Regions from separate parts of the Homo sapiens genome. Here region 1 is linked to region 2. The links come from fine-mapping of genetic effects on gene expression. Tissue or cell type: whole blood. Region 2 holds a variant in brackets; the other region holds the start of a gene. All regions are shown on one strand. Distances are from middle to middle.

Evidence for each region. PIP is the estimated chance that this variant, and not a neighbour inherited with it, causes the effect.
Region 1: it holds the start of GLG1, and the variant in region 2 is fine-mapped to the expression of GLG1 in whole blood (INTERVAL, PIP 0.93).

The regions. Positions count from the first base shown.
Region 1 is chr16:74,603,445-74,609,061 of GRCh38, reverse strand. It overlaps GLG1 (golgi glycoprotein 1), which reads left to right and starts at 1,948. Exons shown (of 26, transcript NM_001145667.2): 1 at 1,948-2,405. The coding sequence starts at 1,968. RefSeq lists silencers at 1,778-1,967, 2,198-2,377.
Region 2 is chr16:74,560,924-74,567,662 of GRCh38, reverse strand. All of the region lies in intron 1 of GLG1 (golgi glycoprotein 1), which reads left to right. Among named protein-coding and RNA genes, the nearest start is that of GLG1, 43 kb to the left of the region's middle. RefSeq lists an enhancer at 1,565-2,066. The variant G/A (reference allele first, on the strand shown) is at 3,436.

The sequences.
Region 1 (5,617 bases), 42 kb before region 2:
GATAAGTAACTGATGGCTTATCTAGGATTGTCAATTTCTAGTTAAACTGGCTTAAAATAATCTCCCACTTGTCTGAACACATGCAGACTCAGCATTGAAAATTAATGGAGGCCAGGCGCAGTACCTCACGCCTGTAATCCTAGCACTTTGGGAGGCTGAGGTGGGCAGATCGCCTGAGGTTTGGGGTTCGAGACCAGCCTGGCCAACATGGCAAAACCCCGTCGCTACTAAAAATACAAAAATTAGCTGGGTGTGGTGGCACATGCCTGTAATCCCAGCCACTCGGAGGCTGAGGCAGGAGAACTGCTTGAACCCAGGAGGTGGAGGTGGCAGCTCCGAGCAGAGATCACGCCACTGCACTCCAGCCTGGGCAACAGAGTGAGATTCCGTCTCAAAAAAAAAAAAAAAAAATTAACATACGCTAGTGACATCTCAAGGACTTCTGGTGATGTGTCCAGCCTGCCTGACTGAAACTTACCTATGCCATGTGTTTGCTAATAAACATGGGGCTGCCTTAGTCAGTGCTCAAGGTTAGCAGCAGCCTCATGATCATTTTATGACAGTAGCAAAGGTGACCGTTGGTGGAGATGCCAACAAGCTCTCATTCCCCATGATAGAGGCCTGGGGTCAGCCACAGTGGGTAATTTGTACTCACAGAATATCTTCAGTCTCAGGAGCTCCTTTTGGGTTCCCTGAGCTCCTGACTTTTCAGGTTCTAGTTATGTCTAACTTGGTCTTGACTGCTCATTTGCGGGTCAGGACAGCAGAAGCTGTCTGTTTACTACAGTAGATGTAATTCGCATTTTTGGACACAATGACCAGTGGAGATTACACAACCCAAACTGCCCTCATTCCCCAACATGTGCATGGACAGAGTGGGATGAAAGTGCGCCAGGGTGGTGGGAAGCCCCAGGGATTCTGGTGGCTAGCCTAGCTGTCTACAGGATGGCAGAGTTCCTCTTGGGCAGCTCATTTAATCCCTCCACGCAGAACTGTTAACATCTCTGTGCCATTCTTCAGTTAAATGAGAACCTAACGCAGGCCTGATGCATGGCTCAGATTACACAGCGGATGTGAAGAGGCTTTGGGAACATATCCTCTCTCCTAAGGACAGGGAGGGGATGCTAGTGTGGGGTGCCTGCGGTGTTGCATGCAGGTCAATGAGAACAGTTACCGACACACAGACTTAACCCGAGTCCTCAAAGATGTGTTTTATTATTATTTTTTCATCCTTTAAACATGAATCTAAATGCTGGCTTAAAATCAGGATTCATGCATAAACGGCTTCCCAGTTTATTAACAATACTGGCTGTGACTTTTTGAGTTCAGTGTTGTGGGCCAGGCACTTAAATTATTATTTCGAATCTTGCCAATGGTACTTTACATTTGAGCTCTTGCGTACCCTGCCAGAGCAAGGATTATAACCTTAATTTTTTTTCTTACCCCAGAACTTATGCTCTTAACCCTATTCAATGCTGTCTCTCTCTTTGGCTAAGAAAGACTTCTGAGGCAGATGGAAGGAAGGAAGGAAGGAGGGAGCGATACAAGGAGAGGCTTTCCGATTCCGTAATACACCTGGTTGTGCAAAGTTCACCTCTACATATAAAGTTTTTGTTTTCCAAGTCATTGAACCGGCGACATATTCTACCGGCCATTTTGGTTGTGGCAACCCCAATTCCCTTGATTTTTTTTTTTGTGACAGCAAATGGAATTAGAGTAGGCCGCCCTGCCCGGGCTTTTTAAGAAACCCCAGCAACCCCCCCGGGTAAGGAGCGCCGCTCTCCCGCCCGCCGGTCCAGGGTGTGTGCGGTTTCCAGCACGGCCTCCTCCTTCGCCCCACTCTGGGTTCGCGGGTCGGCGCCGGCGGGGCGGGGCTCGGCAGGGCCACGCTGCCACGCCCAGCGTCTCCACCCCCTCATTTAAATACGCGGCGCCGGCGAGTGCGTCGAGCTCGCCGCGGACTCAAGATGGCGGCGTGTGGACGTGTACGGAGGATGTTCCGCTTGTCGGCGGCGCTGCATCTGCTGCTGCTATTCGCGGCCGGGGCCGAGAAACTCCCCGGCCAGGGCGTCCACAGCCAGGGCCAGGGTCCCGGGGCCAACTTTGTGTCCTTCGTAGGGCAGGCCGGAGGCGGCGGCCCGGCGGGTCAGCAGCTGCCCCAGCTGCCTCAGTCATCGCAGCTTCAGCAGCAACAGCAGCAGCAGCAACAGCAACAGCAGCCTCAGCCGCCGCAGCCGCCTTTCCCGGCGGGTGGGCCTCCGGCCCGGCGGGGAGGAGCGGGGGCTGGTGGGGGCTGGAAGCTGGCGGAGGAAGAGTCCTGCAGGGAGGACGTGACCCGCGTGTGCCCTAAGCACACCTGGAGCAACAACCTGGCGGTGCTCGAGTGCCTGCAGGATGTGAGGGAGGTGAGGAGGTGGGACGAAGCCGGGAGGGCCAGGCCTGGTGCGGGCCCGAGGGTGTTGCCGGCCTTGGAAGCCGCTGACGCCGGTCGGCTGCTTTCCTTGCTTCCTCTGTGCTGCACTCGCTCCTTCCCTCTTTGCTCCTCACTCCCAGGCGCTTTCAGGGAAAAGGATACCACTCCCACTCCTTCTTTCCCCCGCCCTTATTTCCCTCCCTGTTGCCGGGGTCTGGGACGAAAACCTGGGCTCCTGGCCGCAATCCGCCGAGGCCCAGAGCGTGTCTGTTCGCTCCTGTCTTTTGTGTGATGCTCTATGCAGAGTGTCTCCTCGCCGAAGATCAGTTTAGGATTTTGCCATCAGTTTCGACTAGGACAATTTGTGGCAAGCCATTTAAACATAAAAAAATGCCTGGCGTACTTAGGCTGTAAAGAATGATCTGTTTATTAGCAGTAGATGTAATTCGCAAATCCATATTTTTGGTGCTGAAATTAATGTATGCTTTGTTTTCTTCACTTCCTTTGGTCAGTTGTATTGAACCCCATGTTTAAGCTGTTAACTCCCAGTGACTTGGCGCCCCAAAGCTTGAAAAGTTGGGGAAGCGTTTGAAGCTGTGTTTGTGACTGGGTTATGGGATCTTGCCTTTCTGAGGTCTGAATGTGATTTTAACAGTATCTCTTAATGAAATCTACATTTGTCGTTGCTTGGTGTGATTCAGTTGAGTGACATTGATAATTTATAATCAAGTGACATTGATAATTTATAATCTAGGTTTAATGCTGCAGACCATAATGACAATTCTCAAAGTTTGGGAGCAAATCTGACAGTAGTAACTTTTTCCAGAGGTGTAGGTATATAAAATTAGCCCTAAAGGTGGACAAATAGAATGAAGCTACCACTTGATACTGTTTTTGGTTTTTTTTTTAAATATCAGATTTGTTTAAGGCGTTCAAGCTATAGCAAGACCACTTGCTTGTAGAAATTTGCTTCTCTTGGCATTTCCCCCCTTCATCTCGTGTTCTAGTATTCTATACAAAAGCAATTCAGATAGAGGAAAAGACATACATAAGCAGGAGACAGAAAGAAAGGAAGTTTCCAGAGCCCCTAGAAATGTGAGGCCTTACCTGACTTCTCATCTTCAGCTTAACGACTAGAGGGATAGTCCTCTGGTAGATACAGCTAATATTCCTAACTCTGTCGAACTTTTTGGAATTTTCTTTTCGCTCTTTGAGGACACATAATAGATGTCGTTTCATCAAACTAGGATCCTAATACTGGTGACCAAACAATTAGTAGTAGTTTGTGGTAGAAACAGCACATTATTAGGGAAAGTGGCAAAAAGTGGCCTATTCAAGGAGTGTATATATCCTTCATGTGTATTCCGGACATTTGGAAACCTCCACTTAAAGGAGGCAGTTTTATGCTCCAGAGGAGGAAAGGCGTCATATAAATTGGAAATGGGGGTTTTGGGGGGTTGGGGGGAGGTGGAGGGACCAAATTTCCAATTTAATGTTTTTTCCTCCAGTTTTTACATACAGAAATAATGAAGGAAGAGTACTGTGAACACCTATGTGTATTCTTCAGGAGGTGGAGTTATTTTTAAACTTCTTTTCTTTTTTTTGAGATGGAGTCTCACTCTGTCGCCAGGCTGGAGTGCAGTGGCTTGAACTTGGCTCACTGCAACCTCCACCTCCCGGCTTTAAGCAATTCTGCCTCAGCCACCTGAGTACCTGGGACTACAGGCGAGCGCCACCACGCCCAGCTAATTTTTGTATTTTTAGTAGAGACAGGGTTTCACCATGTTGGCCAGGATGGTCTCGATCTCCTGACCTTGTGATCTGCCAGCCTCGGGCTCCCAAAGTGCTGAGATTAGTGGTGTGAGCCACCACCCCCACCCTATTTTCTTTTTCTTTAAAGACAGCGAAAGGAAATTTCATTCTGCTTAGTCTGGGAGTTAATTAAATCTGATCTATGTGTTTGAAAGAGCATAACTTAAAGAAGTAAACTAGTTAGGCACATTTGAAGAAACATGTATAGAATATGTTTTGTATTTGCTGTTCAGTAAGTAGAACTATTTGATAGTGAAATAGATATATGTACTTTTCTGTCCCTTTGCATGCAAATGCAGGGAACATTTTCCTATCCGTACCCATTATTGGAATTATGAAAAGGCAGAGCATATGAGTACAGTTGTTCCTTGGTATCACTGGAGGATGGTTCCAGGCCTCCTGCAGATATTGAAATCCAAGGACGCTCAAGTACCTTATACCGTATAAAATGGTGTCGTATTTCCATATCATCTGTGCACACCCTTCCGAATTCTTGTCTTCTCTAAAATACTTGTGATACCTAGTACAGTGCCTACATATCAGTTCATTCATGTGGATTCACTGTAGTACTTGGCATATGTCAAACTTAACTTTTGCTTTTTGGAACCTTATGGAACTTTTCTTTCTGAAAAAAAATTTTTTATTATGGAGACAGGGTCTCGCTCTGTCATCCAGGCTGGAGTGCAGTGGTGCAGTCATAGCTCACTGCAGCCTCAGTCTTCTGGGTTTGAGAGTTCACTGAAGCCTCCACATTCCGGGTTCAAGTGATCTTCCCAGCTGGGCTTTCCAAAGTGCTGGGATTAGAGTTGTGAGCCACTGTGCCTGGCCTTGGGATTCTTTTTTTTTTTTTTTAACGCTCTCGGATGAGTCATGCTTTTAAAAAGGCCAAGTATATCATGGGTCCACTATGAAATAATAGATGTAATAGCCAGTAATGGTGTGTTAGTAGTCCTAGTTGTGTGTGTATAATTATTAGTAGTTCAAGTTATTTAAATAAAAACAAAAAATTAGAAAGTGTAAGGCAGAAAAGAAAAAATATTCCCTGGGCTGTTCTAGTAGGTGGAGTAATAATACCAAAGAAAGAGAAGATACTGTTGCTTAGTATGTGATAAGGAAGGCATGCTTGATGTTGTCAGTCATTTTAAAATACTTTACTTATTCTTGGTTGAAATGGCCAGTAGCACTTTTTTTTTTTCCACTAGTGTCTTGTATTTCGAAGTTTCAGATGGAGACCTTGGTTCCTTAGAAGTTTGTGGTGTTCAGCCGGGCGCAGTGGCTCACACTTGAAATCCTAGCCCTTTGGGAGGCTGAGGCAGGAGGATTGCTTGAGCTAGGAGTTCAGTACCAGCCTGGCAACATAGTGAGACACCGTCTCTAATAAAAAGTTTGTGA
Region 2 (6,739 bases):
CGGGAAGCGGAGCTTGCAGTGAGCCGAGATTGCGCCACTGCAGTCCGCAGTCCGACCTGGGCGACAGAGCGAGACTCCGTCTCAAAAAAAAAAAAAAAAAAAAAAAAAGAAAGTGCACCATATATAGTAAGGTTTCAGCACAGGAAGCAGTGATTTTTATCTTTTGGAGTTTTACTTCTGACGTGACCCAAATGAAGAATAGTCCTGTGTCCTAGGAAACCCCAATGTTTTGTATTTGCTTCTATCATTAGAATAAAGAGATACCTGTCAATTTCTCATTTCAAATTCTAAAGCGCTGGCATTACAAATTTCAGTGAAACTATTGTGAGCCAGGCCAGAGCTGAGGGACGTGTTACAACATTGGTAATTGAACTTAACTCTGTTCCTCCTACCAACAAAACAAAAGAAACAGCTAACTCCTCTCTCTGTCTGTCTCTCTCTCTCTCTCTCTGTCTCTCTCTCCCCGCTCCCTACACCCCCCACACACAACACACACACACACAATTACATGTAATCATGTAATTTTATTCAAGATTTTCTCCTATAGAAAATTCAAAAATGCTAGATTTTAGGAGACCCATTAAGCGGCCTGAAAGGTTTTCTTAGATTCTTTTTCTGGGCAAAGACAATTTTCTTTTTCTTAGCTTCCTATAGTTTTGCAACATCTTAAACATTTTCTCCTCTGATATCTATATTCTTTGCGTGACTATATATACTTTTCATTCACATCTTAGCAATATGTGTTAGGTTTAAAATAATTAATGTTTAAATATTTCTGTTGTTTATTTAAAGTTTCCTGCAGGGTATTATTTTCCTGGTGTGGAGAATAAATTGTGGTGGAAAAAAATTTGTTGTATCTTCTACTTCCCATCAGATATTTATTATGCACTTTCTCCATTCTGAGTTCTAGGGTTGGGAATGGTCTTGACTCTGTAATGCTACTAAAATTATACTTTTGAAAGTATAAGAATAATAATCTAATAGTATGACTAAAGGATATAAAAGGCAAATTACAACAGAATAGGCATGGAGGGGAAAAAAAGAGACCTGCTCAGAGGTTAACTCTTCGAGAGAATGAAGACGGTAGTCTGGATTAAAGTCATGACAGAAGGAAAAGAGATTGACTAAATCTAAACAACATTGGAAAAAGATGACAATGGAGAGCTCTTTAAAGGATTAAAATATGAGACATACAGGAGAAAAATTAAAGATAAACCAAAAGTTTCACTGGGTATGTGGGGGTTACTCCCTGTGGGAACGATGAAGCCGTGGTAGAAAGAACTGGCTTGGGGACAAAAATAAATTCTGTTAAATAAATAAATAGAAAAGACAAATGTCCTGTAGAGAAGAATCACAAATAATTTATGTAGATACTTTCCCTGTCCAGGAGGTGGGCCTCTGCATTTCTTTCTTGATGATGGGCTGAGCTTGGTGAATTGCTTCCAAAGAGTAGCCTATGGGAAGGTGGAAAGGGAATCATTTTACAGTGGAGAAACCTTGGCCAAGTGATCAAAGTTGACGTTATGAGTGAGGTGGTGTTTGTAGCATGTATGCCTTTGATGCGATTGTTGAGAATGGCACTTTACCTATATGGTCTTTCTCCAAAAAGCCTATAACCCATGAGGAAAACGTCACACAAACCCAAATTGAGGGACGTTCTACAAAATACCTGACGAGGTTTCCTCAAAACAGTCAAGATCATCAGAACAAGGAGCCTAAGAAGGCATGGTGACTAAATCCTGGATGGGATCCTGTAACAAAGACGGAACGTTAGAAAACACTGCTTTAAGCAAAACCAAACCTAAACCAAACTTTTTAGTTTGGTTTGTATTAGGCAGTGTTCTCCAGAGACATAGAACCAATAAGGTGTGTTAAAAGAAAAACTTCAGACAAATTTAACAGAATTTAATTGTGCAAAGAATAATTTGCGAATCAGGCAGCCTCTCGAACCAGGAAAGGTTGAGAACTACTCTGGTGCTGGTGTATGGTTGGAGAGGATTTATGGACAGAAAAAGGAAAGTGACATACAGGAAAGGAAGTGAGGTACAGAAACTGCAGGATTGGTTACAGCTGGGCCTTTGGCTTATCTGAACACAGTTTAAGCAGTTGGCGGTCTATGAGTGAAGTATGGCTGCTGTGATTGGCGGAGACTGAGTTACTTGTTACAGGAGTAGGTTGCAGTTTGTTTTCTCTTCTAGTCAGGTTACAGTTCCCTATGTACTGAGAAATCTTTAGGCCCGAACTTAAAATATGTAAGAAGGCAGCTTTAGGCTAACTTTAACAATTCCCCTCTTTGGTCAACCTCTCAGTTTTGTTTTGTTATTGTTGTTGTTTTTGAGATGGAGTGGCTCTGTTGCCTAGACTGGGGTGTAGTCATAAAATCTCGGTTCACTGCAACTTCTGCCCCCTGGGTTCAAGTGATTCTCATGTCTCAGCCTCCCAAGTACCTGGGATTATAGGCGTGTGCTACTGCACCTGTCTAATTTTTATATTTTTAGTAGAGACAGATTTCACCATGTTGGTCTTGAACTCCTGACATCCAGTGATTTGCTCATCTCAGCCTCCCAAAGTGTTGGGATTACAGGCATGAGCCACCCCATCTGGCCTCAATTTTGTATTGTTTGTCAATTTTGAGAGGTTGACAAAACTTTAGGCATCCATAAATGTACTTATTTGATCTCAAATCCAACTGGGAGGTAACAAAACTGGCTTTTGCAAGGTGGGGAACAAGGACTTCAGGTTAGTTTTCTGTAGGGATTAGAGCAGGGGCAACCTCCTTATGCTGGGATCTCTTGTTTTTAGGAAAGGAATAAAAAACCTGGGCTGTTTGGGATCTTTCTGCTTCCTTAAAGTTTCAATTTGATGATGTTGCATTTAGCATGAGTGACTTCATTTAGGTTTGATCTGGTCTAGCCTATTGATGCCTAGTGAATAAGCTTAATCCAAAACAGTGGGCTCTCACAATTTTGTTTAACAGCTTCGCCTTTTTGGTCAGGTTCTCACTTGGGTGTGAGTGTTACTGAAACTTAGGGCTTTAGTGCTACTCAGTTACCATCCTTTTGGGTTTCCAGTCCTAGCACTTTATTCATAGGTTTTGGTGTCCTCATGATCATGCATGTCTTTGAGTGTTTATCATTCCTGCTGAAGAGAGACCATTTGAACTTACATAGATGGCTGCATGCAAACATTTATAACTTTTGAGAGAATATAATGCAGCAGGGAGACTGCTATTATGACTGTTAGGAGGATAATACTAAGAGTTTGGAGTATGCTCCTTAGCCAGAGTTCGCATGAACCAAACCAACTAAAATCAAATAGATCAAAGAATGAGCAAGATAAACAATCTACTCATTTCAACCAAGCAGCCAGTTCATTAATCCCCTACAACTGAATCTCTGTAATATCCAGTATATTCATCCACGTGCAACAAGAGGT[G/A]TCAGCAAGGCCTGGTATGATGGCTCACACCTGTTAATCCCAGCATTTTGGAAGGCCGAAGCGGGAGGATCCCTGAGGCCAGGAGTTCAAGACAGCGTAGGCAACATAGCAAGACCCTGTCTCTACAGAAAATACAAAAATTAGCCGGGCCTCGTGGCACATGCTGGTAGTTCCACTACTCAGGAGGCTGGGTGGGAGGATCACTTGAGCCCAGAAGGTTGAGGCTAAATGAGTCATGATTGAGCCACTGCAGTCCGGCCTGGGTGACAGAGCAAAAACCTGTCTCAAAGAATAAAAATAAAAGTGTCAGCAACTTCACAGATACTTCCCTGATTAGCCAGTAGGCAACCTTGAGCAATTCTGTTATCCAGTAGACCTTTAGCAAGATAATTTAAAGAAGTCTGTTTTGTAACCATAGCCTTTGCAGTAGAATCTGCTATGGAGCATATCATGAGGAACAAATTTCTTTTTTTTTTCTTTTTCTTTCTTTTTTTTTTTTTTGAGACAGGGTCTCACTCTGTTGCGCAGGCTGGAGAATAGTGGCGTGATCTCGGCTCCCTGCAACCTCTGCCTCCTGGGTTCAAGCAGTTCTCCCACCTCAGCCTCGCAAATAGCTGGGACTACAGGCACACGCCACCACGCCCCGCTAATTTTTGTGTTTCTGCTAGAGACAGAGTTCCCATTTTGACCAGGCTGGTCTTGAACTCCTGACCTCAAGTGATCTGCCCACCTCAGCCTCCCAAAGTGCTTGGATTACAGGCATGAGCCACTGCGTCCAGCCCATGAGGGACAAATTTCTAGACACTGTATCGTTTACTCCAAACTCTGGAAAAAGTGACCTAACAATGAAGGCCATTCAGAATGATGAAGGCTTCCAAGCACTAGTGTTCTTTTTCACCTCTGATGTAGGTTAAAAGGAGTGGACCAGTGTTCTCTTTCTGACAGAACCATTAAAATTCCTAACCCACATTGGACTGTCATCTTTCATCCATTAAGACATAATGCTGCCTATGGATAAGGTTGGCTGTAAAAGTTTTCACAAATAAAAGTGTGCCCCATTGGTGCACCATAAGACCCCTTTTCTGTTGTTCATAGAGGCATAAACAAGGAAAACATTGAGAGGTAAGAGTCTCATGATGACAGAGAAGTTTTGATCCATGCTTTTGGGAAAGCTGTCCATGTCTAGGGTGCCATCTGCTTCTGGGGGAAAACCTTTTCTAACTGGTTAGCTTTACGTTAAGATTTCCAATGGGTGTACAATTCCAAGTCTGGAGGGGCCCTCCTGCATTGTGATATCAATTGACCCAGTGTTTGAGGCCCCAGAGTTTTGCTTCATTGTGGGTAACAAGGGCAGTGTTTTCCTGACGTCATTTCCAGAAGAACCAACCTCCAGGTTCTAGATTGTGAAGGATTTGAATGTCCTCAGTGGGTGGGTCATGAAAAGCTTCCTTTACTGCCAGCACGGTAGCTCATGCCTGTAATCTCTACACTTTGGGAGGCCGAGGTGGGCGAATCACTGGAGGTCAGGTCTCTGGAACCCAGGAGTTCAAGACCAGCCTGACCAACATGGTGAAACCCCATCTCTACTAAAAATACAAAAATTAGCTGGGTGTGGTGGCGCATGCCTGTAATCCCAGCTGCTTGGGAGGCTGAGGCACAAGAATTGCTTGAACCCGGGAGGTGGAGGTTGCAGAGAGCTGAGATCACACCACTGCTCTCCAGCCTGGGCAACAGAGTGAGACCATCTACAGAAAATAAAAAAAAGAAAAGCTTCCTTTAGCTGGTGAAAATACACTTTGGTATAATGCATTAAAGGCTTGCAGCATTTATTCATATCAGAGTTTGGGAGAGGAAGATACATGAGGTTCTATTATTAGTGGCATAGGCCTTCCAGTGACTATTTCATAATGAGTCAACTTATATTTTCTACTGGAAGCAGATGAGGTTGTCATCAATCTGCAATACCTTTGACCAAGGCAACCAGTCAATTCAGTTAGCTTCACCTAAAGCTGTTGTGTCTGTAATACCTTACTTAACTGTTTACAACTTGTCCAGTGAAACAAGTACCACTATCACTGGAGATTTCTCCAGGAATGCCCCGTGAGGGAAACACATTTTCTGACAACCTTTTAGCTACTGTTATAGCATCAGCCTTCTTGCATGAGAAAGCTTTTACCAGAAAACGTGTTGAAAATGACAGTTGAATGAAATTCCTCTATAAGTGTTCCAATGACCCATCAGGTAGCTGAAGTTTTAATTATCTTCCCAGGTTGTAGGTTTGATAAGCCAAACCTTGGTCATAAACCATTTTTAGCGATTTAGAGCAGTCACCACACCAATGTATATGTTTTCTATTTGGATCATTTTCTGTCTTCCATGATGAGTCATGGAGTGCAGAGCTTTTAATAATGGAAGATTTACGGATTCAGGAAGGACCAGGTGGCTGTGCAGGATCTCTGTGATTCCATGCTTAACATTGCATTTATAGCCTGTTAAATACCAATTTTGTATCTCCAATTCAGGTGCATAGCACTGTTCATTAAATGGGTTATCATAGGTAATTTGACTTGGAACATAGAGTTCATTCAAGTTGCATATCTTAACAGTTTTAGTACTGGCTGATTTAGCATGAAAATCTGGCAGAGTATTTTTCTTAGTATTCAGTTAATTTTTGTCCTGCTTGGGTTAGCAGTTTTATAAACCAGTCTCTTTATTAAAGTTCTGGGAATTCTTACCCAGTCCAAATTAGATGAGCCTAAAGTTATCAGAAACTTGTATTCAGTAGTGCTTATTAGGGTCCTTTCCATTACTTTCCATGAACGTTCTTGAAGACATAATGCTCTAGGATTTTACTTGGTTGTAAAGAGCTTAAAGAAAATGCATCCGTATAAAGCAATTAACTGTGGAAACAAAATGATCATGGTTAAAGACATAATTGACAAGAAAATTTGGTTGTGGTCATGAAGGGTGTGAGGGTGCAGGCCTAGGTGCCAATATTGGGGGCAGGGACCTCAGCCTTCTGAGGCTACTCACAGGCATGCTGCCCCCCATGCCCAGCTCTGACACCAGCAGGAGGAAGGTGCTGGCTGCTGCAGGATCCTGGCTTGCTGCCTGTTGGCCCCGATCCTGCCCCATCCCTCCAGCTGGGCACCCCCAGGTGCTGCCATGCAACCAAGCAGGACTGTGCAGGACTGCGCAGGACTGCGTGGTGCCAGACTATATCTCTTCTAAAAATTCATTCAATTTGAAATAACCTTTAAATAACTTTTTTTCTCAGCAAACACATATTTTTATGCCTTTATAG